7 linked regions of the Homo sapiens genome follow. The protein of the gene in region 4 interacts with the protein of the main gene of each other region in a pairwise test. Each region holds a gene or a part of one and is shown on either strand. Other genes may lie near its edges. The genes, in order: FAM167A, AKR1C8, TPD52L2, COQ8A, MAOB, SH3GLB1 and CCDC34.

Region 1 (4,218 bases), on a different chromosome or scaffold from region 4:
AGGAGGGAAAAGAATTAAGATGAGGGTGGCAAAAGCTGAACAGGCAGCAGGACCACCTCGCGGTGTCCTGGGATTCCTCTCCGACATGGCACGCAGACGCTTAAGAAAGGAGAGCAGAACTTTCCAGTCCAGACGTTTTCCTCAGCCCCAGCCTGTGGTGGGGATGTGAATGGAGGACGTCCTGCTGCCCGACCTCTGCCGCCCTAGGCTACGAGCCTGCCCTAGCAAGGGGCATCCATGGAGAATGAGAAGGAATAGTCCACCCCAACTGGTAAGCAGAGAAACCCGCTGTCACCTCCAGCTCTGCTTGGAGCAAGCGAGAATCCCCCTGAGGAACTGGATTCTGATTCAATTGGTCGAGAGATGGGACTTAGACAGCAGTGTTCAGCTCCCCCGATGATCCGAGTGTGCAGCCGGGGTGGAGAACCACTGTCTCCAGATGCAGACACTAGAGTTGGGATCAGATGGCCTAGCTCTACGTCTTGTCAGGCTTGCTAAGTCTCATTTTCTTCATCTGTAAAATGGGAGTGATAAATACCAACCTCCTATGTTCTAGCAGATTGGCAGAACTAAAATTCACCGGCACTCTCTGAAGACTTAGCACGCTAAGTCCGCAAATGCGAAATGTACTCATGGGAGTCTCCTGTGCAGTTTCACGGTCAGAATCTGTCCAAATCTAAAGACTTATCAGCTGCTTTCTGGGGCCCCTCCCAGGCGCCGTCTGCCTCTTTGCTGAGGTGCCAGGATCTGTTTTGAGCATGTCTGGGGCAGCTGCACCTACAGGGCTTCCTTCTCCCTGGCAGGGGAGCTCTGATTAGATCCATCAAAGCTTCCTGGAGAGGATTCAACTGCAGGCGGATGAGCAGCACCCTCCCGCCCTGAGTTCTGTGAGGAGATAACATGGATGAGGAGCCCTGGTGGCCCACCCCCTCCCCCACCAGCAGGCTCCCACTGCAGAGGTGAGGGCATCCCACTGGGCTACCACTGCTGGGTGAGGGGCTCCTCTCAGGGTAGGAAACTGCTACAAGTCTGTAACTGTATTGCAGACAATTTATTTCAATTATTGGTTTCTTTTCTTTTTCTTTTTTTTGAGACGGAGTTTTCACTCTTGTCACCCAGGCTGGAGTGCAATGGCGTGATCTTGGCTCACTGCCACCTCCACCTCTTGGGTTCAAGCGATTCTCCTGCCTCAGCCTCCCGAGTAGCTGGGGTTACAGGCAGCTGCCACCATACCCAGCTAATTTTTTGTATTTTTAGTAGAGACAAGGTTTCACCACCTTGGCCAGGCTGGTCTGGAACTGCTGACCTCAGGTGAAGGCCTGCATAGACCATGTCAGGACCATCTGGTGGCACGGGCATTAGCCCCTGTGAACTGTGACCAGCTAGTGATGGTCCTCAGATCTGCTGAGCTTGGTGAAGTGCAGAAAACACAGTGTGCACATCTGCCCATGTGAGCCCCAAAGTAGCCCCCAGAGGCAGGCGGGATCACCCCATTTCACCAAGGAGAAATCGAGGCTAGGGCAGGTGAAGTGCCTCACCTCCTGGTCACAGGCAGGTGCCAGCAGCTGGACCTGGGCACAGTCATTTGACTCTGTCTCAGCCTCTTTCTACTCTGGAGAGTGTGGGCTCTGGGTTAGAGCTCCAGGGCAGCCATTGGCTTTGTGACGCTGGCACATTGCTTCATGACCACTCTGGGCCTCTGTGTCCTCTTCTGAGAAATGAGAACAACCGGAACGACTACATAATTCACAAGGCTCAGTATGAAACGAAGATGCGGGGCTCCTTGTTTAAAAAGTTCTAAGAATTGGCCGGGCGCCGTGGCTCATATCTGTAATCCCAGCACTTTGGGAGGCCGAGGCGGGTGGATCACGAGGTCAAGAGTTCAAGACCAGCCTGACCAACATAGTGAAACCCCGTCTCTACTAAAAATACAAAAATTAGCTGGGCGTAGTGGCGCACGCCTGTAATCCCAGCTACTTGGGAGACTGGGGCAGGAGAATCGCTTGAAACCAGGAGGCAGAGGTTGCAGTGAGCCAAGATCGCACTACTGCATTCCAGCCTGGGCGACAGGGCGAGACTCTGTCTTAAAAAAAAAAAAAAAAAAAGTTCTAAGAATTTCAAGACAGGGACAGCAGAGCATGAACCCACACGAGGGGCCCTGTGCCACTGCCCACAGCCATGAGGCTAGTTCTGGGGATAATAACATCTACCTCGTAAGTCCTAATCAGGGATTCAATAAGGTTACAAATGTGAGCTCTCAGCACACTGCCTGGTCTACAGGAAGCCCTAGACATAGTCATGTAGCCTTAGTCATGGTTTTTAAAATGTCATTATTAAGATGACATAACCTATCAGAGTTATATCACCGTCACATGACAGATCATGACCCTCCAACTGCACTGAGCAGACACTCTGTTGGTCTCTGACCTGCTGGGTGGCCCAAGACAATCCCTGCCCCCTCACATCCTTCCCTGGACACCAAACGACACGAAGTCAGTTGATCCCACCTCCCCCAGATTTTCAGGTCTCAAAACTTAGTGGAGTCTGTTCTGCCATAGAAGGGAGAGAACAGCTCCACTTACTAAAACCATTCCATGCCTGCTCCCTTCCCTCTCTGCTCACATTGTGAATGCCCCGCCCACGGCTCGGGGTGTTGGAGAGACTCCACCCTGTGCTCTCTGCATGGCAGACCAAGGCCAGGCCCCAGAAGCCTGGTTTCTGGTCCCAGCACTGCTGACAAGCCGAGCACCCAGGCTCAGTCCTTTCCTCGTGGCCTCAGTTCCCTAATCTGTGCAATGGCTGAGGATCTATGGAACCTGGTATGTGAGAGCTCTCTTTAAACTGTAAAGAGCTGTACCCACCTGAATAGGCGTGTGTGCAATGTGGAGAGGCCTGAGTTGGGGAGTCACTATTTTAGAGCAGGTGGTCACCCGTAGCTGGCAGGAACGGGATTGCCCCCAGCACAGCCAGATGGTGAGGAGCTGCTGCAGGAATGGGATTGCCCCCAGCACAGTCAGACCGCGAGGAGTTGCTCAAGCAGCATGTGTTTTCCTGGTCGTCAGTGTTTGGGGAGCACTGTCCCCCTGGGTGCCCTGGTGCCTGAACAAGCCCAAAGGGGTTTCTTCCCTCCCACTAGGCACAGGAGCTCAGCTGGAATGTCACCCACACAGGCGCAGGGACGTGACAGCAGAAAAGCTTGTCACTGCTCACTGGGCACTGAGCTGGACCCGGCCTGAGCCGGCAGAGAGGTGCTGGCCGGGTGCCGGGGAACAGATGCCAGCACTGGGCAGCTTCCTGGGCTGGAAAAGCAGTGGAGGCCTCCCCTCGCTTGACAAACCAGGGACTCCTGGGGCCCAGGCCCCGGGAGGAAGAGCCCCCCAACACTCTAAACAAACGGGCTTTCTTTACATGTAACCTGGGTCGTTCCTAGGGGTGGAGGGGCCGGAGAAGGAAGCCAAAGGACGCTGCCAGACCTGGGACCTAGGGTGTCTAGAAAAACGACATCAGACCCTGTAATCCCACCAGGCCCAGGCACGCCCCGCCAGGCAGGCCACCCAGCAGCAGTGGGGACAAGCCCTTGGGGGGGCGCGTCAGCCTTTCTGCAGCTCTGTGTGCCAGTGCCGAGGACCCATGCCACACACAGAGACTGCTGTTCCAACAAGCTCCCTGGCTCCCAGGCCCACAGCGGCTCCTTGGAGGAGCCTTCGCCAACCATGAGCTAACTCCTCTGGCTGCTGGAGGAGCCAGGTGGGGGCAGCTCAGCCAACACCTTGTCTCATTATGACCTAATCTGTTCACCTGGAAAACGGTCACATCCACTTCCTCGATGGGCTCCCAAGGGCAGGGGAAGACGCAGGCACTGCTGACCCATCCCCTCCACACCTCCTCTCACCACGCGCTCCTGCTGTTCCTTCCAGCCTCGCATTCTCCACTAGAACCCTTTCGTTTCTTCTCCATAAGACACAATCTTTCCAACCCCGACCCAGCACTCCTGTCCCGCCGGACACCATGCTCTTTCACACCCCTGACTCGGCACAAGCTTTCCTCCAGCCTGGAAAGCCCTTCACTCCCTTCTGTGCCTTAGTTCAGTTCTCAGGGATTTTCTCCTGGGGGAAGTTTTGCTTGATTTGCCCAGGCTGGGCTGTGTGTACCCAGGACAACCCGAGCACATCAGAGAAACAATTATGTCATCGCAACATTAGCTAATGCTTACAGCAC
Region 2 (4,218 bases), on a different chromosome or scaffold from region 4:
AATAAAGAAAGGCAAGCAACCTGCAACTACAGATCCTACTTCCTACTCCTCTATCAAATACTGAAATCCTCTCTCTGTCACCTAAAAGGAGGAAATTGTGGTGGTAATGTTCAATAGCTCATGGTCAATATTCTTCAGAAAATGGAAAATAAGGGTGATTAGCAGCACTGAAAGAGAAAAAATATTAATTTAGTAACTTTTTTCCATTCTGTCAAAGAGTTTTTCTGAAGAAGCACTTGGGATGGGCTAAAATTCCCGAATTTACCACCACGTCCCTACTTGTACCTCGGCACACATGGTTTAATCTATGGAGGGGATGAGATGCATTTCTAATACCCACACCTGAAAAACACAATTATGACTTATTTAAATATAATCATAAAGATACTTGTTAGTAATTAAAATTACTGTTTGTTTTCCTTTTTATGTTCATTTTTCTTTTTTACAATTTGTTCTTTTTAATTGGGTGACATTAAAGAGTACCTTCTAAGCAGTTAAATGTGCCAGGAGTCATATTGACACAGGGCCACAGACATGAGTAAGACAATGCATTCACAGTCTCATAAGGCAGATCACAGACTTATACTTAGCCTCTGGGTACAGAAAAGTTACTTCCCACATTTTTCTCATTGAAAATGTTTCCTCTCAGAATCTTGGTGTGGTTTTACATAAAGGAGGATTCTTCAGATCTTTTTTGGAGACTGAGTCTTTACTCTGGCAACCAAAATTGTATTTCCCCTGCTTCTAAACTTTCCTCTAAACTCCTCTCTATTTAGCCTTCTCTCTCCTTAGTCCTGAGATCCTGCAGTAGTTGAGCAACTGGAACGTCACGTTTATAAATAAACCAAAGTCAAGGGATGTTGGGCTCTCCAGAGGTGGACTTCAGGTGGACAAAGATGACACTGGAGTAAGAGTCATGCCTTGAGGATCCAGAGAAACTCCAAAGGATCTTATCTTGGTAAAGGCTATTGACACCTCAGTCACTAGCATTTGAGGGTCTATTAATCTCATAATTCATTCACAATTCAGCATGGTGAGATTATATAGCTGAGGAAATGGGAGTTGTGGTAGGTAAAGAGGGCCAAGAAAGACATAAATTTTTGCAGAAATAGTTGGTATCCTGAAGAGGGAATACCACATTAAGGCTTCCCTAGGAGACAGGCACCTTTGCCTTCATGGGCCCATCCTGTATTAATACTTAAATTGTGTTTCCATTGCCATGATGTAAACACAAAGATAGAGCTGGATGGAGTCATTATTACATATGCATTATTATTGTATTCATTTTTCTTCTGATTTTAATATAAATTAAAGAGAACGTTATGATGGGCCCCTATAGGTTTGTAGGTCCTACACACTGAGCCTTCTAGACTCATAGGCAGTGGGCCCTGAGTGCTAGACCCAGGCACAGATAGTAAGGGCCTTCAAGAATTGGATTCACAATGGTGCAGACATTGGCAGTTTCACTTACAGACACATTTCTGCTGGGTCAGAGATTGAGTCCTGGAGGAAACCTCTGGTCTGAAGGCTACAGGGCATCTCCTATTTCACCCCATGCCTGAATTTGGGCCTGTCTTCCTGATGTAGGGAAGATGTGTTCCCCATTTCCCTGCATACTACAGAAAACAGCCTGTGAGAGAATCTACAAGCATCACTTACAATTGTAACTTGTCATATCGGAGATTTCTGTTGAGGCCATCAATGGCTTTCATGTCCTCTGGAGTCAACTCAAAGTCAAAAATCTGAAAGGAAGAAAACACTCACATTAACCCCTCCCCAGGGCAGCAGCTTCTACATGGGAATACAAGGACTTTCCAGGAGGCAGAGGCAAGGATGGCATTGGGGGAAGCATTTTCATCCTCATCAGCTTCCAGGTGCATGTGGCTTGAGACGTCTTCCACCTGAGACCTCTTCCACCTTCATTCTGCCTCTTCTCCATCCCATCCCTCTCCTACTGGGCTCCACTTCTCAAAAGAAAGGTGTGCACTCATCAATCTAAAATATTTATTGAGAATTGCTTGAGGCAGAAAAAGGAAATCCTTTATTTTAAAATAGAAAATAAAGTATGCAAAATAACTGCCACCTGGACATGTCCACACTTGGTCAGGGATTTGTTTCCTCACTTCCCGTGGAACCTGATCCAGCCTTGGAATGACAGAGCCTTAGAACACAGGAAACTCCCACTCAAGAATCTGTTTGCCTCAGAAAAAGCATTTTCTGGACAACTGTTCTACTTGCTCACCTCAGGACCCCTAAATACTATTTCCAGCTGTGTTTGCTCTTCCTTATAAAAAATGCTTACTAATTGATCTTTGAGACACTTAGATCTTATGTTCAAAGAGTTCTGCATTTTTAATAAATCTCTCTTACTTAAGTCAAGAGTAGTTTTCATTTGTCAACACATAGTCCCTGATGAGGAGCCCATTAATAGTAAAACAGATATTTTTTGGTTAAAAAAAAAATGCTACTTTCATTATGTGATCCAGGACACAATTTCATGAAAGACTCAGATCTATCTATCTATCTATCTATCTATCTAATGTATTTATCTCTTTCTCTATATGTATCCGTCCATCTTCTTTCTATCTACCAACACATTTATCCACCACTCTTTTTAAAAATGTACTTCAGAAGTTATATGGTTGTCATGAGAGCAGGTATTAACATTTTGAATTGGATCAAAAAATAAAATGGGCATTTTTTGTTTAAGTTGTCACAATGAGATTTAGATTTACCTATTTAATTTTTCCACAAGTTAATATACTTAATCTAGAACTACAATATTTTGAAATAAATACATTATATATGACTCAAATGTCATCTCTTGTAAATATTAAACTCATAATAAAATTTGTAGCTGTCATTTTAAAATGAGAAACAGCTTACATATTTTTTCAAAATTCTTGTGGGATTCAAAACAAAATAAGTTGGAGACCTGTGATTAATACAAGGTCCAGAGTGGATGTGGAGAAGGGTTTACAAGATAACTTCACTCCTCAATTTCTTAGTTTGGTTGGTCTGTAAACTTATGCCTAGTTTCATACCTGCTAGAGTCACTGCCAGGGGAAGGGTAATAAAAGATAATCCAGAAGGAGCCATTGTATTTAGGTTCTCACAGTCCAGAGAGCACACTGAAGTATTAGCAAATGATGTAAAATTAATAAACAAAAAACTCACTAACAGAGTCATGCCAGGCCAGGGGCTTTTGTGGTGAAAACTGGCCTGGGGTGTCCCAGTAGTTTAACAGAGCAGCTAATTTTATTTGGGTTTGATTTTAAAATACAAATAGGCATTTATAGGTAGAGAAGGTGAAGGAGAAGAATCAGGGTCCTTAAAGTTCATTACCATGTAGAAGAACTCCTGAAACGGATGAAAATAAGTGAGTTGAAATTTGCTTAGTGTCAACCAACTAGTAAGTGGCAAAGCCAAGCCTAGAGATGATAAACCTGAGGACTCTGAGTTCAGTGCCCTCTCGTCGATCCTTCCACACTGCCCTCCTCCCTTAGCACAGAGTGGAGAGCACAGGAATGAATGACACGTGTCGCATTCTCCCATGTAAGAGAGATCGCCCAGATCAGCACCCATGGCTCACTCTGGAGCGACTCTGCTCAACCTTTACCTGGAAGTTCTCTTTGATTCTCTCCTGAGAGAAGCTCTTGGCCAGCACCACCACTCCCCGCTGCAGCTGGTAGCGCAGGGCGACCTGGCCTGGGCTTCCACTGTGTTTCTTGGCAATGGATTTCAAGATCGGCTCCTCCAAGAGATGTGGGCAGTCGGGATCCACCCTGTTGGGGAGGGAACAGACACAGATGTGAAGGATGCAGGATGGAAAATCTACAGTGCGCTGCTCCTTTTCCCCAAATTCTCCAGAGAGTTGAGAGGAGTGGGCACAATACAATTTGATTTAAAACGGTCTGATAACTATTCATATGGATTCATTCATAAATGCAGTGAACTGGAAACAATAAGGCTGTCCATTAACAGGTGAATGGATAAACAAGTTATCCATACCCTGGAATAACACCCAGAAATAAAATGGAAAGAACTACAGATACTCACAGCTACATGAATGCAGCTCACAGATATGGTGAAAGAAGCCAGGTGCAAACTAATGCACATGATCTCTTTCATAGGAAATTTTAGAGCACACAAAACTAATCTAAGGTGAAAAAACCAGAAAATAGTTTCCTAGCAATGAGAAGTTATTGTCTCAGAAGG
Region 3 (4,218 bases), on a different chromosome or scaffold from region 4:
CAGGCGCGTGCCACCACGCTAACTAATTTTGTATTTTTAGTAGAGACGGGGTTTCACCATTTTGGTCAAGCTGGTCTCGAACTCCTGACCTCATGTGATCCACCTGCCTCGGCCTCCAAAAGTGCTGGGATTATAGGCATGAGCCACTGCGCCTGGCAGTAAGCCTGTTTCTTTTCAGAATGTTTTGGTCAACAGGGAAAGTGTTACAATAGTCATGTGCTTGGATTTGGAGAGAATCGAAATAGACTGTTTTTCTTTATGTGAAATCTTGTAGACTTTTAGGGTAGTCAGGAAGATGCATTTGACATGAAGAAAAAACAGTGGCTGCAGGAATTTGAATGTGATCTGGGTGTAGTTGAGGTGTGTGGTGGCAGCACACCGCTCTGCACCTCTCTGCCTGCTGGCGGCCTTCTGGCAGTGGGATGAGAATCGGGAGGTAAGTAAAGGGAATTTTGTTTTGCTGCCTCCCTGAAGGAGCTGAATGAGCAGCATGTGCTCCTAGTACGTAATTTTAGCATGTGCTCTGTCAGATGTGTTGAGAGGAAAGTGATGCTTATTGTGTATATTAACCATATTAGGTTCCTTTTTTTAAAAAAAGTGGAAATTTGTCAGGGTATGGTGGCTCACACCTGTAATCCCAACACTTTGGGAGGCCAAGGCGGGCGGATCACCCGAGGTCGGGAATTGGAGACCAGCCTGGCCGACATGACGAAACCCCGTCTCTACTGAAAATACAAAAATAGCCAGCGTGGTGGCGTGCGCCTGTAATCCCAGCTACTCGAAGGCTGAGACAGGAGAATCACTTGAACCCGGGAGACGGAGGTTGCAGTGAGCTGAGATCGCACCATTGCACTCCAGCTTGGGAGGCAGAGTGAGACTCCATCAAAAAAAAAAGGTGGAAGGTCTGTTAGATTGAGCTGCTTTCTCTGTAGCAAGGGTTTCCTGCCTCTGACGATAGTATTCTCACTGGGAAGCCAGAATTCGGGTTTGCCTGCCTTGGGCCGGCATTTGTCGTGCCCTGAAGCAGCACAAGTGGCATTGGCTTTTCAGCTCAGGTGGTCTGAGGTGTGGCTGCCCTCGTCTACTGCCCATGCTGTCCTCACAGACCTTTCAGAGAAGAGGTGTTAGTCTCCAGGGTCTCACCCACTCCCACCTGTGCTTTTGTCCTGCTAGAGACCTCTACCGTATTTACTTGGAACTAACTTATTTGACACTTTGTGGCCTCATTTTGTCTCTGGCAGATATCAACCTGAATTCTCCTAACAAAGGTCTGCTGTCTGACTCCATGACGGATGTTCCTGTCGACACAGGTGTGGCTGCCCGGACTCCTGCTGTTGAGGGTCTGACAGAGGCTGAGGAGGAGGAGCTCAGGGCTGAGCTTACCAAGGTGCTGTGGCTTGGCTGTCTGTCCTGGGGTGAATTGGAGTTAAGGCCCTCTTGGATTAGTGAGAGGCCAGGGTACTGGCCACGCTCGGGAGGAATTGCCCTGGGTGGTCACCTACCCTGCTCTGTGTTCCGACTGATAACGGGGTTCTCTTTGTATGTGCCCAGCTCCATGCACTGGACTCAGAGCCACCTGGCAGTGGAGACAGGGCATGACTCCCTTCCCATACCTCTGTGCCTGGCCCTTCCTAAGTGCTCCCTGAGGAGTGTTCACACATGAACCGCCTCTGAGCAGCCATCTGCTGGGAGTGTCTCTGTTGGAATTAACACTTGATAATCATTTTTAAGACCCCATGAATCTTTCTTGTCCTGGATCTTAAGTTTTCTTTTAAACATATTTATTTTGGCTGGATGCAGTGGCTCATGCCTGTAATTCCAGCGCCTTAGGAGGACAGGGTGGTAAGGTGGGAAGATCACTTGAGCCCAGGAGTTTGAGAGCAGCCTGGGCAACACAGTGAGACCTTGTCTCTACCCCCAAAAATTAGCCAGGTGTGGTGGCATGTGCCTGTAGTCCCAGCTACTCAGGAGGCTGAGGTGAGAGGATTGCTTGAGGCCAGGAGGTCAAGGCTTCAGTGAGCTGTGATTGCATCCTGCACAGCAGCCTGGGTGACAGGGCGAGACCCTGTCTCAAAAACAAAACAAAAACTTCTTTTCTAAAAAGTATTTATGTGATCTTCTTTAAGTGAGAGTCCCTTAAGAGTAATGTAGGAATTAAGAACAAAAGCCTCCAACCATAATTTTTAGTCAAACCAACTGCCAAGAGTTTTCTTTTCACCCTGTGATGTGGTTTAATTCCAGAATCTGGGTCCAGGCCTAGGTCTGAGTAAGGTTGGTTGTGCCGCTGAGTCTGAGGACCAGGTTTCAGATCCTGAGGACATCACACAGCTATTTCTAGCCTAGAAGATTAAAGGAGAGTAGCAGGAAGTCCAAGGACACTTTGCTTTCCATTTAACTTCAGAATATGTGAGTTTAGAAACTAAATCCACAAGGTTTTTTTCAGAGTTGAATTACAATAAGGTGAAGTTTTTTTTTTTTTTTTTTTTTTTTTGAGTCGGAGTCTCTGCCGCCCAGGCTGGAGTGCAGTGGCGCAATCTCGGCTCACTGCAACCTCCAACACCCGGGTTCACGCCATTCTCCTGCCTCAGCCTCCTGAGTAGCTGGGACTACAGGCGCCCACCACCACGCCCGGCTAATTTTTTTGTGTTTTTAGTCGAGATGGGGTTTGTTTTTTTTTTTTGGAGACAGAGTCTCGCCCTGTCGCCCAGGCTGGAGTGCAATGGTGTGATCTCGGCTCGCTGCAATCTCCGCCTCCCAGGTTCAAGCGATTCTCCTGCCTCAGCCTCCCGAATATCTGGGATTACAGGCGCGTGCCTCCCTGCCCATCTAATTTTCGTATTTTTAGTAGAGACAGAGTTTCACCATGTTGGCCAGGCTGATCTCAAACTCCTGATCTTGTGATCCACCCACCTTGGCCTCCCAGAGTGCTGGGATTACAGGTGTGAGCCACTGTGCCCGGCCCCTACAAGGTGAAGTTCTGTATTGCTTTTTTTTGTTGTTTTTCTTGAGACAGAGTCTTGCTCTGTCGCCCAGGCTAGAGTGCAGTGGCGTGATCTCAGCTCACTGGAGCCTCTGCCTCCCTGGTTCAAGTGATTTTCATGCCTCAGCCTCCCAAGTAGGTGGGATTACAGACGCCTGCCACCACACCTGGCTAATTTTTGTATTTTTAGTAGAGACAGAGTTTCACCATGTTGGCCAGGCTGGTCCCGAACTCCGAGTCTCAAGAGCTCCACCTGGCTCAGCCTCCCGAAGTGCTAGGATTACAAATGCGAGCCGCTGTACCCAGCCAAGAAAGAGAATTTTTTTTTTTTTAAGGACGGAGTCTCACTCTGTCGCCCAGGCTGGAGTGCAGTGGCGTGATCTGGGCTCACTGCAGCCTCCACCTCCTGAGTTGAAGTGATTCTCTTGCCTCAGCCTCCCGAGTAGCTGGGATTACAGGCGCACAGCACCATGCCTGGCTAATTTTTGTATTTTTAGTAGAGACGGAGTTTCACCACGTTGGCCAGGTTGGTCTCGAACTCCAGACCTCAGGTAATCTGCCTGCCTCAGCCTCCCATAGTGCTGGGATTACACGCAAGAAAGAGTTTTTTTTTTTTTTTGAGACTTTTTGCTCTTGTTGCCCAGGCTGGAGTGGAATGGTGCGATCTTGGCTCACTGCAGCCTCTGCCTCCCAGGTTCAAGTGATTCTCCTGTCTCAGCCTCCCGAGTACCTGGGGTTACAGGTGCATGCCACCACGCCTGGCTAATTTTTGTATTTTTGGTAGAGACGGCCTTTCATCATATTGGTCAGGCTGGTCTCGGACTCCTGACCTCAGGTGATCTGCCCGCCTCGGCCTCCCAAAGTGCTGGGATTACAGGCATGAGCTATCGTACCCGGCCAAGAAAGAGAATTTTTAAAGAGAAGCTAGTCATATATGAGCTGAAGATACTGAGAACTCATTCTAAAGTGGTAAAGCTTTGAATGATGCCCCTTTCAGAGGTCATGTTCTTTTTTTTTTTTTTTTTTTTTAAAGACCTGAGAAAGTTCAAGTCTTCATGATCAGGAATCTTTCTGTTGCTCAGTTCTAACTACGTTAAGCACAAAAGATAATTTACCTTTTGGTTCGTGTAACTGACTCTTGCCAAGGTTTGGAACTGACCTCAGGAACACAAGTGTTTTCTTAAGGGTGTTTTTTTCTGTCACCTGTGTCACTGTCCATCTGCCTCCTCCTCTCTGCA
Region 4 (4,218 bases):
TAAATTATGCCCATTTTACAGATGAGGGTGCTAAGGCACAGAGTGGTTAAGTAATTTGCCCGAAGTCACACAGCTTTTAAGAAGTAAAGCTGGGACCTGGATCCATCATGGCTCAGGAGCTAGGCAACCTGTTTAACAGGTAAGAGGAGAAAAAGAGCAAAACAGTGTGTTTTTGATGTCCCAGGCTGCAAACCTCCATTCTCCATCCATTGGAAGATTAAGATATTCTTAGGATTCCCTGGGTGAGTTGCCCTGTGGTGAGCACTGGGTTGGGAGCTGGGCAGGGTTGGGGGTGATATAAAAGCAGCAGAAGGCAAAGTTCCAGCCTCTGATGATAGTCCAGAGAAGGACCCAACACTGTGAGCGAACCTGCATGGGCTCAGAGCTCCAACCACAGGCAGGCAACAGAGGGTCCCAAGCAGCCTCTCCCACTCTGTGAGTTGATATAGCCGATGACACACAAGGCTTTTAAAGGCCAACCAGCCAAGCGCAAGGTCCTGATGGCAATTTAGTTTTCTGACTAAAAACCTAGTGAAGTTTACTGCTTAAAACATTTAAATTAAAATATTTGGCTCAGGAAGTGATACTGGTGACATGGTTAAGATGCTCTGAGGTTAGGTGATCTGGGTTCACATCATGACTCTGCCACTGACTTGCTAGTGTGACCTAAATCAAGTCATGTGAGCTTATCTTTGTGCCTCAGTTTCCTCATCTGTTCTTGAAAGGACTGGATAAATCCATGTAACAGCATTCAGGACATATAGTAGGTGCTTAAAAACCATTAGCTAATGCCATTATTATTAGTAGTAGTATTGCAAGCACACAGACATTCTGGAATGAAGTTCAGACTTGGTGAGACCAACGGTTAGGGTGAATGGGATCAGTCTGGATAACCCGCAGTTGTTCCTGCCAGGCACAGTCTCATACCTGAGTTGGGAGGAAGGCTGGGCTGGGGAGGACCAGTGTGGTTTATTTAGTGCTGTGGTATGAGGCATCATTCAGGAGAGGCAGTCCAAAGTGCTGGCAGCCTGCTTCGAAACCAGGGACACAAATGTCCACTGGTATTCCTTACCACTTCACCTTAAAGGAGAAAACAGCATGGGAGGCTTTTGTCCAGGTACATTCAGGGAGAGGCAGTTGGGAAGAAAACCCCTCTAACTCCCACAAGCTCCCCAGCTCCGAGCCATGGAACACTCTCCTGCCAGATTCCTCTCCCTATAAAAAAACCCACGTTCATCATGCCAACGCGTTGCTCAAATGGCTCCTCTACCTGTAGACATGTATGTAGACATATATATAAAACCCAAACTCCTGCGCCTGAAGTCCCAGGCATCGAAATCAGGCCCCCGGCCTCCTTTCCAGCCTCCAGCTACGCGCGAGCCATGTGAGCGCACTCCACTCTGCAGGTCCTACTTTCTCAGGCAGGCCCGCTCGCCCCTTCATCTCTGTACGTCTGAAAACCCACCCATTAGCCAAGGGTGAGGGCCTTGGGGCCTTGGGGCTGGGAATCAGCTCTGCCCTGACCAGCTGGGCTGCTCCAGGCATATTCTCGAACCATCTCTGACCTGTTTCCTCTCCTCGAAATGATGGTATAAGTTATTATATTGTCCAATATAAATGGAGGGGTGGGTGGATATACTTTGAAATGTGTTAAAGCACCATATAAATTCAAGAACGTATTCCTATTCAGGCCCTTGATTCCCAGCTCTTCCATATTTACGTTCTCCTGACAGCTGATCTAACTTGCTGGTCAGATTCCTACATTGTAAGTTACTCTTCTTCTTGCACATGGACCTCTCTTCTCTTCAAACTATAAGCTCCTTGTGGGAGGCTCTTGTCTCAGACAACTCTGACTCTTCCCACTCCACCCACACACACAGAGTGATCCACCCACACAAATTACAAGCGCAAGCGTTGACTGAATTCACGAACCACTGCCACCCAGGAAGGTAATTAAGGATCCTAAAGTTGAGGTTGAAGGGTTTCTTTCAACGTTTCTTTCAGACGCTTACAGGGTTGTCTTTAAATCTGGCCAAAATACTGTGGGTGGCTGTGGTAGGCTGAATAATGGTGTCTCAAAGATACCCATACCACAATCCCCAGAACCTGTGAATGTTACCTGCAAATGGGACTTTGCAGATATGATGAAGTCAGGGATCCTGAGATGGGGGATTATCCAGGTGGGCCCAATGTAATCACAAGGGCCCATATAAGAGGGAGGCAGGCAGGGCAGAGTCAGAACGAGGTGATGGGAGACAGAAGTGAGGCTGGAGTGATGCCATTGTGAGGAAGAGGCCACAAGCCAAGGAATGCAGGCAGCCTCTAGGCTGGAAAAGGCAAGGGGTCGGGTCCTGCCCTTGAGCCTCCAGAAATGAACCAGCCCAGCTGATACCTTGATTCTAGCCTAGTGAGACCAATTTCAGACTTCTAACCTCCAGAACTGTAAGATCATACATTTATGATGCTTTGAGCCACAAACTTTGTGGTAATTTATCACAACAGCCATAGGAAATTAAAGCAGATCCTTGGGTTGGGGAGAGGGGCTGTATTCTAGAATAATTTCCAGACCATTCTTCTAAATTAACTTTGGTCACTCCACAAATACTACTGAATGCCAACCAAGTGCGAGGCACCAAGCTGGGTGGTAGACTACCCCACAGACAGCTCAGTGCATTCCTGTTCTTAATGACGGAGTCCTGTTGACTTTCTCTATATTGGGCCCATACTACATGCCAGGCAGATAGATATATATATATATATATTTTTTTGAGACAGGGTCTTACTGTTGCCTAGGTTGGAATTCAGTGGCATGATCACAGCTCACTGCAGCCTCAACCTCCCCAGGCACAGGTGATTATCCTGAGTAGCTAGGACTACAGGTGGGTACCACCACACCTGGCTAATTTGTTTGTATTTTTAGTAGAGACAGGGTTTCACCATGTTGCTCAGGCTGGTCTCGAACCCCCGACCTCAAGTGATCTGCCCACCTCGGCCTCCCAAAGTGCTGGGATTATAGGTGTGAGTCACCGTGCCTGGCCTCGGTTTTATATTCTTAATCTTTCAAAACACTTTTACTTCAGGTTTAATATCTCAATGAAATAGGAATAATAACAAGAACAGCTACCATTTATTATTCCCCTCTGTCTGCCTGTCACTTTATATTACCTCTAGTTCTTACAAAGACCTGGTGAGGTATTATCCCCACTCATTGATAGGATAATTAAAGCTCATCAAGGCTGAGCAATCTCCTAAGGGCCAAAGCTGTGGGATGCTGGACCCTTCCACACCTGTCTGACTCAGGCTCCAGTCCTTTCTTCTTACTGCCTAGGAAGCTGAGAGATAGCAGAGAAGAACACTGCCCCAAATCAATAACTCCTTTTTTGTTAAATCAATAGTCACTCAATATGAGACATCAGCAAGGTTTACATCCTGAAATGTGTCTTCCTGGTTACAGAAAATTGAGTCATAAAAATTCTGGGGCCAGCTGGGCTCTCAAAGGCCATCTGGCCAAACTCCCTGCTCTGGAAAGTTTGTCAGCTGCCAGGACTGAGGGTATCACAATTCTCAGCACCAGTGATCCTACCCACTAGAGGCAAAGCTTGGTTCCAGAGCCAGTTTGATCTTAAACATAAATAGTGGAAAGAGGCAGACGCCCTACACTGAAGACTGCCTCTGGGTGTGCAAGAGCTAGGAGGAGCCATCGGGCACACGGCCCTCAGTCTTGCCACACTCAACACCAGCACCAACCTTTATTAGCATCACCTCCAAATGCCACACACAGGCCAGGTGTGGACATGCACACATCACTGGTATGGAAGTTAAATAAACATGTTCTGCCCTGAGGTCACACACAACCCTTAGGCACTACATGTGTATGTAAAACCTCGATAGCTTTTAAAATCACCCAGTTAACCCAGACAAGGGGCAATCCTAGACAGACAACAACCACACACGCAACGAGAAATGAGAAGAGGCTCAGCAGGGTGCAAGGGGACCACAGACCCAGGAGAGGTGGCCATCTCCTTGCTGATCTCCACTCTCCCTGGTCTGGCCTGGCCAGCAAGGCCCTTCACTGTGGAGCCCCAGACACCTCTGCAGCGATACCTCTCGCTAGATGCCTCCGTGCCCCAACGCTTCAGCCAGAATGGACCCCCGGCCCCGCCCAACACCCACACAGGTTTTCCAGCTTCCACATCCTGCTCCCTCCTCCCCATGGAA
Region 5 (4,218 bases), on a different chromosome or scaffold from region 4:
CAGAATTTCTGACCAATCTGCTTCCAGTTGATGTTCCTACAACCCCTTCAAGTTTGATTGATTTGCTACAGTGGCTCACAGAACTCAGGGAAACATGTTTACTGTTTTATTATAAAGGATATTACAAAGGGTACAGAGGAAGAGGTGCATTGGGCAAGAGTTGTGAGAAAGGGCATGGAGCTTTCATGCCCTCCCCAGGCATGCCATTCTCAAGGAACCTCCAGTTGTGCAGATATCCAGAAGCTCCCAGAACTCGGTCGTTTTGGGTTTTTATGGAGGCTTCCTTATGTAGGCACAATTGATTAAATCATTGGCCTCTGGTGATCAATTCAACCTTCAGCCCCTTGCCCCATCCCCTCCCTGGAGGCTGGGGGTGGGGCTGAAAGTCCCAACCCTCTAGTCTTTCCATGGTCTTTCCTGTGACCAGCCCCATCCTGAAGCTACCTAGGGGCTGCCAGCCATCAATCATTGGCATCAAAGGACATCACTCTGGAGATTCTAAGAATTTTTAAAGTTGTATGCCAGGAAACTGGGATGAAGATCAAATATATATTTCACAATATCACAGTTACCTCATACATCTCATGGTTTAGGGTCTCCACAAGGACATTTTCTCTTGTCTGGTCAATGTAGATCACAGGCCTCTCCAGCTTCACTCGGTCTCCAAGGAGGTCCATTATCCGCTCACTCACTTGACCAGATCCGCCCACAAATTTCCTCTCCTGGAAAGAGAAAAGGAGGTGAAAGAGAAACGCAGGAATGGGCATAAATTGCTAAATTCTTAGTTGTCCTCACATATGTCTACTCTGAGATGTCTAACATTTCATTTTGCTGCAGTGAATAGTGGCTTTCACCATGGTTTTCTAAGTAGGAATTGCTGTCTTTGGACAAAGTTACAGGATTTCTAAGTTACTTTACAAGCTATGCTCTTGTAGATTCCCAGACTCCAACCTTAGCTGGACATCTTCAGAATGACCCCTGTATCCCACCTTTCTGGTCACCATCCCTGCTCTCTGTCCTATCTGCAGTCTTTTGCTTAGAGCTGGAACTGGTGAAGCTGTACCTAAAGCTCTTCCCTAGCTTGCCTGAGCAGACCTAAGCCTGCTTCCCCTTGCTTTGTGGCTCAAGCGCAGAACTTCCCTGCCTCCCACCATGTCCCCTTCCCCCAGGCCAGCCTACTCCCTGTTGCAGGCTGCCCATCTTATCCTGGGTCAGATGCCTGCTGCTTCTGTAGCCACCGAACTCATTTCACCTCACTGTACCCACCTGCCCTCAGCCTTGCTAAAACTTCCAAATGTTCTACCTGGCTATGCACACAGTTGACCTGGCTGCCTCCTCCTCAATTTTCAGTTAAGGTCAGAGAAGGAGAAGGAGAGGGAGAAAGAGAAAAGGAGGAGGAGAAAGAGGAGGGGGAGGAGGAGAAGAGAAAGAAAGAAGAGGAGGAGGGGGAGAGAGAAGAATGGAACATGACAACCAAGCAGATTATTTAAGAACTCCAATATGTTCCTACTGTGTCTAGCACAGTGCCTTATACAGTGCCGGGGCTCAAGAAATGGGCATTGAATGAATGAATAGATAAATGAATTCCATGAATAGTGTGTGTTTTAAATTGAAAATGCATTACTGAATTTCCTTTATAAGCTTTCCAAGAAGTGCTCAAGCTAAGCTTAATTCAGATGGTCTCCTACAAACTTACCAAATAATAATTGAGCGTATGGAAAATGGCCACAGTGCATAAAGAGAGACAAGCCTAGCTTTAAAATTACATTGGACACTGGGTTCTCACAGTGGGTACCTGACAACAGACTGCCTTACAAGAAACACTTTGAGCTGCCATGGTAATGCTCTAAAAGCCACAAGCCTGCTTCCCACTTCAGCAGTTCATGATTGAAGGATGATGATCTTTCATTTCAGTAGCAGTGTTTTTCCATTGGGACTGTGGAAGAATGGATGGGTACCTGTCCTCCATTTGTTGTCGAGATGATTCTTGTTGTGCCTCCACACTGCTTCACATACCACAGGAACCAGAGAGCAGAGACCTCATGGGTCTCTGCAGTGACACACAGGTTCACAAAGAGAGTGGCAAGCTGCTTTGCAGATCTGCACAGGAAGAAACAAGAGCAAACTTGGCAAACGCAGGAGAGCAGCTTCTTAATTCTCTAAAAATTATTTAAGTAACACATTTTCTTGGTTAAGTTTAAAACAATGTGGTAAGGTCAAAAAATTGTCACTAGAATCTAATATTACAAAACGTGACATCGGAGGTTTTTGAAATATCAGATTATTTTCCCTGTAAACAAAACACCTTACTCAGAATCAGCTTCTATTCCAGATTCTGTGCTTTCATGATTTCTCCTTACATTCCTGCTGCTCTTCCAGTGATCCCCATCTCAGTAAAAAGCACCATCATTTACTCAGTGGTAAAAACCAACACTCTAGAAATCAAACATTATTTCTCTCTTTCCATCAATCTTCCCCCATCCAATTCATTGGGAAGTCCCATTATCTCTCACCACATCACTCCACCTTCACCACAAATTTAGAATCCATCTCTTTCCAGGAGTACTGCAATTACTTCCTTCAGACTGGCCTCTCTGCCTCCATTCATCCTCACCTGGTATCTGTTCACCACACTCAAAGCCAGAGGCTTTTCCCTCCCTCCCTACCATGATGCTCTCTCTGAAGTATAAATCAAATCATGTCATTTTCTTGCTTAAAAAGTCTCCAGTGGTATCCTATTAAAACCAGAATAAGATTCAGATCTTACACCATGGCTTCCAGAGCCCTATGTGATCCAGCCCATGCCTACCTTTTCTGTCTCATCTTGTACCCTCTTCTTTTTACTCTAATGTTTCCTTAGAAAGACATATTCACATTTGTCTATGAAAACGACCACTGGCTTCCATATTCCCAGCATCCTGACATTCTCTATCATTTTGCTACTGTATAGTATCTTTATAACTCTTTTCACTGTCTGAAATTGTCTTGATTATTGGTTAATTCTTTTTAATTGCTGTCTCCCCCCACTAGAATATCAACCTATGAGAACAAGGATCTTCTGTTTCTCACTCACCATAGTGTCCCCTTTAACAAAATAGTGCTTGGAACATTGTAAGCACTCAATAATTACTTGTTGCATGATTGAACGAATGAATGATTGATGAGAAATATCAGTTAAACAAAATTTTTTAAACATCCATAACATGCAAAGGATATGCTAGGTGCTGTACCAAACACAAAATTAGTCACAGTTATCTATTCAGTTATTTTACTGCCTAACAGAAGACAAGCTCAAATAATGGATGAGGGGACAAACAATTAATAGAGCATAAATGGGTAAGCTTTTGCTTGACATTGGCAGGTAAATGGTGAGAGGTTATCACCTATCAGGAAGCACACCAGAAAGCAAACTATCTCATGCAATTTCGAGGACTCCATTATATCTAGCACAGCATAAAATTCATCAGTAGTAGTGTGCACTCTGGGATTTCTTTAATAAGGTCCAATTCCCCTTTTGACTTTGACATGAAGTTTGCATATTGTTAATCTTGTTATATCTGAGGCAGCATTTTCCACCTGGTAATGCTGACAATGGTTGGGATAAATGATATTGTCTTCCATTTATTGAACTCTTTCCACACTCCATTGTCTTTAAAATCATTATCTTGTTAAATTGTTGCAACAACCGTATCAAATATCTATTATTTTTCCACAGTTCACATGCTAGAAAACGGAGTCTCGGACAGTTTAGGAATATATAACGACACAACTTCAAGTCAGATCGTACTTGACGCAAAACTCGTGCTTTTGATACCTCAAAATGTTTTCTAATTAGTCAGCTGACAGCCTTGGAAGTGCAGCTACTCACCAAGGGGCATCTCTCTACTTTACTGTATCTTGACCCTAGAAGTTTGTAGAATCATGCCTAACACACATACCAATTATTGACATTATTTGCAGCTGTAACAACCTGACAGCCCGTCTATGACAGTCCCCATCATTACAGCCTGTGAAATGGTGTCATATATACATTAAAGCGACTTACAGTTAGTTTTGTAAGATTTCTCAGGATAATTGAAGGGATGGAAATTGCTAGCTCATGCCTTCCTTGCAGAGGCAATTTGTAATATCTAACTAAAACACATATCCAGACGTCAATTTAAAATAAAAGTAGTATTTTATTTGTTGCTTCCTAAAATCCTATTTCTTTTCTTCCTT
Region 6 (4,218 bases), about 140 Mb from region 4:
TAGTACCCTCTATTATAAAAGAGAGACAATACATATTTTATAGTGTTTGGGGGATTAAGTATGATTGTGTATGCAAATCACTTTGTTTGGTGCCTTGTAATTATTAAGTTTTGAAAGAGCTGTTAATGTTTATTGTGGTTTATGTCTTATTAGCACTTTAATCACACCTAGTTAGATAAATAGTTTCCCAGAACATACCATAAAACCTGTCATTTAAGCTGCTGAGGATATGTTCCAGCAATTTATTTATAGACTAACTTTTGGAACATATCCTATTCATACTATGAAGACATCTTTTAAAGGTCATAAAATGTGGTTAAACGTACTCAATGAATCAATTTTTATTATTGAATATACTGGTATTTGAGAAAAGGTAGCACTGCCTATATAATAATAAAGCAGTAAAAAGATTCTGTGTAGATCTACAGCCTTCTGGATACTTTTAATTAAACATTAGAGGTGATGACTCAAGCTGTTTATCATGCATCATTTTCCTCTAGAATATGTGGCTTCCTCCCATCTTAACACAGGTATATCACTAGCATTAATTCTGTGCTCAGTAATGACTCACTTCTGGCTGACAAAACAGTGTTCACCTTGCCTTTCTCTCCTTTCGTTTCTCAAAAATCTCGTTTGCTACTCTATTTTCTGAGTTTTATTGTTTCTTTCAGCATCCTTCTTCTTGGTTTAATACTTTCAGGTTATTATCAACACCTTAAGCTGAAGGATCCTCTAGAATTCTATTCTTAGACTTCTGGTTACAATCTCCACTGAGGCTCCTGTTTAGGGGCTAGAAATAACAGCTTAAATAGCTTTTGTAAAGCCTTGGGTCTTTTTGAGAATGGTCTATAGCCAGCCCCTGACCTAGTGGGTAGAACCAAAAATAGCAGTTACAAAGCTATTGCCTAAGCCCATAAACTTGCAGTGTAGCTGGAGGACTGGGCACTGAGCAAAAGCAAACCCTGATCCCAAGGCCAGCTGGATAAACTATGCAACCTCATTCTTAACAGAGAACCCCGTAGTCTTTACAGATCCCTGAAGATTCTAAGCAACAGACCTCCTACTAGACTTTTACATGTTCAAAGTCTACCACCAATGGCTAGATAAAATAACTCCCAGATAAAGTGACCAATAGGAAGGGAAGAAAGGGAATACCTTTCACTCAGGTGAACATCACCTATAAAGAGTGATCTAAAAAAAATTCACTTAGCCCCTTAAAAATTGAAACTGCATGCATAAATTTCCCTTTAATAAGCAAGTTTATCCATTTGTTTGTTCATTTTGTTTATTCCTTCAACAAATACTTATTAAGCACCTACATATGTGCTAGGCACTCTTCTAAACACATGGGTTTCAGCAGCCAACAAAACATATAAGGTTTCTGTTCTTAGGAAGCTTACATTTTAATGGCAAAGACAGACAATAGATAAATAAATAATCTGATAATAAGGATATAAAGATATGAAGATGGTAAAGCGGACCAACATGGTTGGTTTGTTTCTGAGTGACATACAAATCCAAGTACAGAGAAAGAATTCATTCTTCAGGGAGAGGAAGAGGGAGAGCAGGAGAATCAGGGAAGGCTTCAGTGGGGGAGGGATGGGCAACTTGGGCCTAGAAAGGGGAGCAGGAGTTTGAGGAGTGTGAGATGCGGGTAGTTAGAGAAACAGCATCTCTGAGTAGGTAACAAACGACCTGTGACTGAATGATATGAACTATGTTAAGATCTAAGGAAAGAGTGTATAGTCCTGATGATTTATCTTCCAGTTGCACAATTTCTTTAAGCTCATTAGCATCACCCTCACACATATTAAATATTAATTTCTCTGTGGAAATCCTTAACTTATAGTTAATAACCAAGAATAGATTAATAGAAAAATCAACAGATCAATAATTCAAAATCAGTACTTATGGCCAGGAGCAGGGGCCCCCGCCTGTAATGTCAGCACTTTGGGAGGCTGAGGCAGGCAGATCACTTGAGCTCAGGAGTTCTAGACCAGCCTAGGCAACATGGCGAAACCACGTCTCTACAAAAAAATCCAAAAAATTAGCCAGGTATGGTGGTGCACACCTGTAGTCCCAGCTGCACTCCACTGCACTCCATTCTGGGTGACACAGCAAGACCCTATCTCTAATTAATAAGTTAATAATAAAATAAATAAATATAAAATAAAATAGTCACTGAATTTATCTGATACAAACTGGGGTTCAGGGCAAGTTTTCTCCCGACAGTATTTCAGGAAAATCAGCAATTAGAAAGTTAATTATTTGGAAAATAAAACACTTCAATCTTCAGGTAAAAAGGCCTGTTTGCTTAATTATTTAACATTTTCTTTGTGACTCTCATGATACTACCTCCCAGGTATCTCAATAAATATATATTCTTTTTGAAAAGAGTATGAAAGTATAACAGAGCAAAGATGGGTATTTGCACCAAGTGATTTATTTGTATGAGTCTGAGGAAGAAAGAAAATATGTTAACTGATAAAGATTCTACAAACACACACAATTAGTAGGTTTTTTTTTTTTAACTATTTTAGTTCAGAAGATACATGGAACCCTTACACATGAGTGAGACAGTCTAATTACAGAAAACCTGTTTAGAAAATAGCAGTACTGTAGGGTCACATGACAATGTTTCTATGTTTCACATTTCAGCACATCCATTTACATCTTTCTCATACTTCTGTGTCAAGGCTTAGTGTATGTTCAAAAATTCCATTAACTAAGCTGTGCATTCTACAACAAATACTCGAAAGAATCTTAAAATAAAGTAAGAATAATTGTAGAGATTAATAAATTGAGACTCAGGGTGATTAAACACTTTGTCCAAGGTGTCATTGTTGGGATTCAATCTCACATCTGTTTGAGTCATAGTCTTATCATGCTATACTACCCTTCCAGTAAATACTTGCTGATTTCCAAAATTAGTATTTTCTATTTCTATTACTATTATCCAATCATATTCTGTGCTTCCTTTCTCCTATGTCTGTTCGCAGCACTCTGGACAGCTTTCTCCCCCAGATCACTTCTGCTTTCTACAAGATATTCAATAATTATTCACCAAAATTAGTAAACTAAATCCTATCATGAATGAATAAAAGGGAGGAAGACACACAATAAGGACATTGCTAATGCTATCATATTTTAAAATTGAAATTATAAATTTAAATCTTATTACTTAAATATATAATTGTAAAAGACATAATATTTCCCAAATTTTATCATTGGTGGAAGCAAAAGGATTTTTCCATAATTAATCAGAAGTACACTTTATTAAGATAACAAATACAATATTTAATACATTTTCTCTAAAGCACTGTAAATAATGCGTCTACTACAGACACTAGGAGTCATCTCAACTAAATTAATATTTAAATTACTAATCAAAAATATTTATGGCTTCTACAGCAAGATGATCAGCATCTGATGTACTTCTTGCCCTCAAGGATTTTATGATCTACTAGGAGAATACTGCCTTGACTCAAACAAAATTATAATAATGGCACCTTTTCAGAAGGGCAAAAGACCTATTAATTCTTTCTTTTAAAAAAAGATCCCTTTCCTAGTTACCAAAAAATTTTAAATTAACCCATAAAAATTTTAGTTTTCAACATCTTCAAGTCAAAAATCATTACTGATTTTGTAATCTCTTGATAATAGGTATTAATGAGAAACTAGTTGATTTTAAGCATATCTTTTAATGAATAGATGGCAGTATAGTTTAATAATTAAGAACTTTTGTGTAAACAACCTAAAATAAAAGGCAAACTGTAAATAAGCATCTTCTTAGTAAGTCATTAAACTCAATGTTTTCTAAAATATAATTTGATACCTAATTTTTTCATATTTCATTTGTAATATGGCAAAGTGGCATAAGAATAAAAGTTTAATCCCCTTTTATATATTTTCTCTAAATATTGCTTTGCGGAAAGAATTGTCTTTGAGTCGGCTACATTATACCAGGCACTGTAATCCTTCTTTTACTACAGGATAGGCATATAACCCACATTATTAAATAAGGAGCCTGGATTCCAAACTCTACTTTTAGAAAAAAAAAAGACTACAAATAAAATGGGTGTGTGATCAAAGACATCTATTTAATGCAAACTCTAATCACCAGTATTACTAAAGGGTAATACTCTAAAAGTAATTTAAATTTCTTGGAAAATATGTAACACAGATTCTGAATAATGTATTAGTAAACTGTAAGGTGCA
Region 7 (4,218 bases), on a different chromosome or scaffold from region 4:
AAGAAGTGTCCCTCATCATTCAAATCTATCTGGCTTCAGTGTTTGGATAGGAAGAATTCAGATAGTCTAGATAGTGGGTTTAGGGGATGCCAAATTATCCAAATCTATTTGGTTGCCATGTTCTGAAACAGTAAGAGTTCAAAAAATATGTGAATATTCTCATTAAAGAAGAGATGTGAAAATGCATCTACAACTATTTATTTTTTGAGTTCATATAGTAAAAGTTCAAAAGAGACTCACGCATGGAAATGTCCATAAGTGAGGGAGGCACAGAGAAACTGAAACACCCTGAAAGACTAGCAAGCAGTTTCCCACCGCCCAGCACATAGGGCACATGCTCACTGAGTGACACACGGTGGGGTGGGGTGGGGTTGGGGGTGGTGGGGTGGGGTGGGGTTGGGGGTGGTGGGGTGGGGTGGGGTTGGGGGTGGTGGGGGGGGGCAGGTAGATTCTTGCCTCTATTTTGTTTCAGTAAAGTTAAAAATTTTGCCGAGTGTATACAGTTGAATTTACTTTAGTTAAATGTACATATGTTGATGCTCCAGTGTATGTAGACATACAACTTATACATACATTTGTACGTATTTCAAAATAATTTACATAGAAGAAAATCTGGAAAGCTATGTCATAATACTAACAATGATTATCTTCAGACAGTGAAATTAGAAGAGATTTTAATTTTCTTAATTATGCTTAGCTGTATTTTCCAAATGCTCTAACAATGAACATATTTCTATTATTATAACTTATTAGTTATTAAATTTGATATAGTAAACTAACATAAATGCAAAGACTTTGTTTTCAGGAATAATAACATTAACATTTTAATTTACAACTGCAGCTCTACTTTGTGAGCTCACAGATTAAATAAAAAGAACACTGTCTAGTTTTACCTCTAGAGCTTTCAGTTGCAGCCGGTCACGTTCTTCTTTTTCTTTGCCAATAAACCACACCTCCCATGGTGTCAGGCGGCTTTCTGGTAAGCGCACCTGTTTCTGTTCTTCTTGGTTATTTTCTGATTCAACCTGAGTGCTACAAAAGAGAGGCTACTATAGTACTTGTACAAGAACCTCTTTTGCTTCCTAGTCCAAATCACTTAACTGTACAGTAAAAGCAAAACTTAATAGTGTATTTTCAATATTGTGATTTTTACAAATATACAGGAATTATACATAAGTATACATTTAAAAAATCATGAAAAGAAATTCTAATATTTGAATTAGTTTACCTATCAAACTGCCTTTGAATTCCTTCACCTTCTAAAACCACGTTATTTAAAACCCCATTGGGATAACCCACACCCTATACATTTGCCTCAATGCCAACACTTTTTTATTTCTAAAAATCTTACCTGGATAACTAATTACTCATTACAACATATAATCCTAATCAGATACTGAAGCAGACTCTTCCCTTTCCCGCCCTTAAGTAGTTCAGGAAAAAAAGATTATGTAGTGCACACAAAGAGAATAATAGAGCAAACATGTAACAATTAGGGACTGTGGGTGAAGGGTAAATGAAAGTTCTTTATATTATTTCACCTTTTTTATAAGTTTGAAATTGTTTTGAAATAAGAAGCCACAAAACATTCTTTAACATTTTGGTTGACACCCTTTTGCCAATCCTTAGACAGGGTGTGTATGACTCTCTAGTCTGGTTACCTCCTACCATAGTCTCCATCTCCACCATGCACCTCTGTCAGTCTGTCTCTTCTGAGGGTAAGGAAAAATAACAATTCAGGGTAAAGAGAAGAGGGGCAGGGAAATAAGTATATACATAAATAAAGAACACAGGGTCTTGGCCAGATACACAAGCCTCATGAAACTGAGAAAAAGCTTAACAATCAGCAGCCATAGAAAGCAAGGTTGTTCAGGACATAAGGTAGCTCTAAAGACTAGTTTATTACAGACTCAGTTCTTTGTCTCTTTCACATTCCTGCTTATAGCAACCAATTGCTTCACCCACTGCTTTGCACAACTTTTCTACTTCATAGATTCAGCTTACTCATTATTTTCTGCTACTATTATTTCTTCATTCATTCATGCCCTTATGAAATTTGCATTCTAGTGGGAAAGAGACACTGTTGATGTGTTATTTCTTATATGCGTCTTTCCTTCCCAGTCTTGCAGAAGGAACCCATCTGCCCCCACTGTAGTGCAGTTTCAACTACCACTACATGCTGATGATGTCTATATCAGTAATTCCAGGCCAGACCGTCATCTTGAGTTCCAGATCCTTATTTCCAACTATGTGATACATAACTCAACTTAAATATCAATCAGTTGAAAACAAATCTAATCATCCTCTACCATCCACCCACCACCCTTCCCACCAAGAAAGTATACTCCTCTTACAATCCTACGTCAGTGAATGTTATCACCCTCCAGCCAGTTACTCAAGCCAGAAGCCCTAGCTCTTTGACTCCACCTGCTCCTTGTCAACATGTGGACCCCCCCCCCCCACCGCCACCACCTCCCATACCCACATGATCACCTAGTCATGTTAATTCCTCTTTCCATTTTTGAAAGCCATTCTTGTTTCCTCCAACCTTACAACCACCATCTGGACAAAACTGGCCTCCCTTTCTCCCTTTCAAATCATTATCCACACCTCTTGCCAGATTCATCCCTCAAATGTTATCTTTCTATCATGTCACTCCTCATCTTAAAGTTCTTCAATGGCATCTTTACCCACAGGATAAAATCCAAACTCCTTAGCCTGACACCCATGAATCTGCCCTTTGCCTATCTTCCAGCCTCTTCTTTCACCAACGGCTGATCCAGACTCTACATTTCACTCACTAGGAACCCCTGCAGGTTGATGAATGTGCCACGCCCCATGCCCTGTAACTTTCACCTAAATCTGAAATTCCTTTCTTCCACCTCCGCATAAAGTCAGATTAAGAGCTTAGATTTGGGCGTAAAACAGCCTGGGGTGAAATCCTATCTGCTTCTTCCTAGCTATGTACATTTTTTTTCTTTTTTTTTTCTTTTTTTTGAGACGGTGTCTCCCTCTGTCGTCTAGGCTGGAGTGCAGTGGCGCGATCTCCGCTCACTGCAAGCTCCGCCTCCCTGGTTCACACCATTCTCCTGCCTCAGCCTCCCGAGTAGCTGAGATTAGAGACGCCCGCCACTACGCCCAGCTAAGCTATGTACATTTTTTAAAAAACTTCTTTAAGCTTCTGTTTTCTTGTCTATAAAATGGAGATGACAGTTGTGGCTGGCTACCTTACAGGCAGAATTGCATGAAACTATCCATGCTAAAGCACTTAATATAGTTCCAGGCACTCAGTAAGTACTTAGTAAGTCATTTATGACGAACTCCTACTGTCCCTTCAAAATTCAACTCCAGCACTGCCTGGAGCCACAACTCTTGGGCTTCCTGTCACTTGCTCATCTCTGCCACAGGTCATGAGTTCCTTAAAGAAAATATATCTCAACTCATTTTTTTATTTCAAGAGCCTGGCTTAGGGTCTAGAATATAGTAGGGTCCTAGGAAACAGTTGTTGAAAGACAATCAGATCAGTGGGCTTTTCTTTTAAGAAATGACACTTTGAATATTAAATTTCCTTCCTTAATATTTATAACAAATGTGTTCAAAATGTGTGGCGCACACACTACAGCTCTACTTATAATCAAGAAAGGCTTGACAAGTGGCCATTTGTGAACAAGATATTTATTACAGCATGGTTTTCCTAATGGATAGTGGTAGAAAAACCAGGATAAAGCTGAATAAACAGCAGGCCCAGAGCACATTGTAAAATATTCCAGGAAAACGCTTCTCATTATCTTGTCTGAAGCTAACTTTGAGCTTAATCTCAGTTCTGACCAATACCCTTGAAGGTCAATGCATCCTCTAAACATGGCACTATTTATACCAAAAATACCTTGAGGTAATATCCATTATGTGCAGCTGATGCCTGAGCCTAGCTCAAAGAAGCCTTACCCGATTCGTTTTGCCAGTCAGATCAATATGGCAGGTGAGGCATGGAGAAAAGGCATAAAATCCCACACAGCTCTAGGTTGCTCTCTGCTTCACACAGAATACTCAAAACCCAGAACAATGAAAGGGCTGACTCAGGTTGCCTGCTCTCTTCATCCTGTCACCCCCAAGCTGTCCAGGGCACCAAAGAGAGGTCAGCAGTTTGACCTCAAAAGCCAGATTGTGGACTCCAGAACTCTTATCCCAAACCTGAACACCAGAACGTGGTTTACTGCA

The links.
Region 1: the proteins of COQ8A (region 4) and FAM167A interact in binary tests that used the Homo sapiens proteins (3 or more experiments, as listed by UniProt).
Region 2: the proteins of COQ8A (region 4) and AKR1C8 interact in binary tests that used the Homo sapiens proteins (3 or more experiments, as listed by UniProt).
Region 3: the proteins of COQ8A (region 4) and TPD52L2 interact in binary tests that used the Homo sapiens proteins (3 or more experiments, as listed by UniProt).
Region 5: the proteins of COQ8A (region 4) and MAOB interact in binary tests that used the Homo sapiens proteins (3 or more experiments, as listed by UniProt).
Region 6: the proteins of COQ8A (region 4) and SH3GLB1 interact in binary tests that used the Homo sapiens proteins (3 or more experiments, as listed by UniProt).
Region 7: the proteins of COQ8A (region 4) and CCDC34 interact in binary tests that used the Homo sapiens proteins (3 or more experiments, as listed by UniProt).

What each region holds. Positions count from the first base shown.
Region 1 is NC_000008.11:11,446,108-11,450,325, forward strand, and holds part of FAM167A (protein FAM167A), read right to left. Parts: exon of another isoform or gene 3,893-4,218; intron 667-3,892; exon of another isoform or gene 296-666; intron 1-295.
Region 2 is NC_000010.11:5,154,016-5,158,233, forward strand, and holds part of AKR1C8 (aldo-keto reductase family 1 member C8), read right to left. Parts: intron 3,786-4,218; coding exon 3,620-3,785; intron 1,743-3,619; coding exon 1,660-1,742; exon of another isoform or gene 168-1,659; coding exon 125-167; 3' UTR 1-124.
Region 3 is NC_000020.11:63,868,055-63,872,272, forward strand, and holds part of TPD52L2 (tumor protein D54), read left to right. Parts: intron 1-1,241; coding exon 1,242-1,387; intron 1,388-4,218.
Region 4 is NC_000001.11:226,946,345-226,950,562, reverse strand, and holds part of COQ8A (atypical kinase COQ8A, mitochondrial), read right to left. Parts: intron 1,081-4,218; exon of another isoform or gene 928-1,080; intron 1-927. UniProt on the Homo sapiens protein: Atypical kinase involved in the biosynthesis of coenzyme Q, also named ubiquinone, an essential lipid-soluble electron transporter for aerobic cellular respiration.
Region 5 is NC_000023.11:43,795,167-43,799,384, forward strand, and holds part of MAOB (amine oxidase [flavin-containing] B), read right to left. Parts: intron 2,101-4,218; coding exon 1,959-2,100; intron 723-1,958; coding exon 573-722; intron 1-572.
Region 6 is NC_000001.11:86,711,076-86,715,293, reverse strand, and holds part of SH3GLB1 (endophilin-B1), read right to left. Parts: intron 1-4,218. UniProt on the Homo sapiens protein: May be required for normal outer mitochondrial membrane dynamics. Required for coatomer-mediated retrograde transport in certain cells. May recruit other proteins to membranes with high curvature. May promote membrane fusion.
Region 7 is NC_000011.10:27,356,510-27,360,727, forward strand, and holds part of CCDC34 (coiled-coil domain-containing protein 34), read right to left. Parts: intron 1,033-4,218; coding exon 894-1,032; intron 1-893. UniProt on the Homo sapiens protein: Involved in spermatogenesis. Has a probable role in anterograde intraflagellar transport which is essential for the formation of sperm flagella.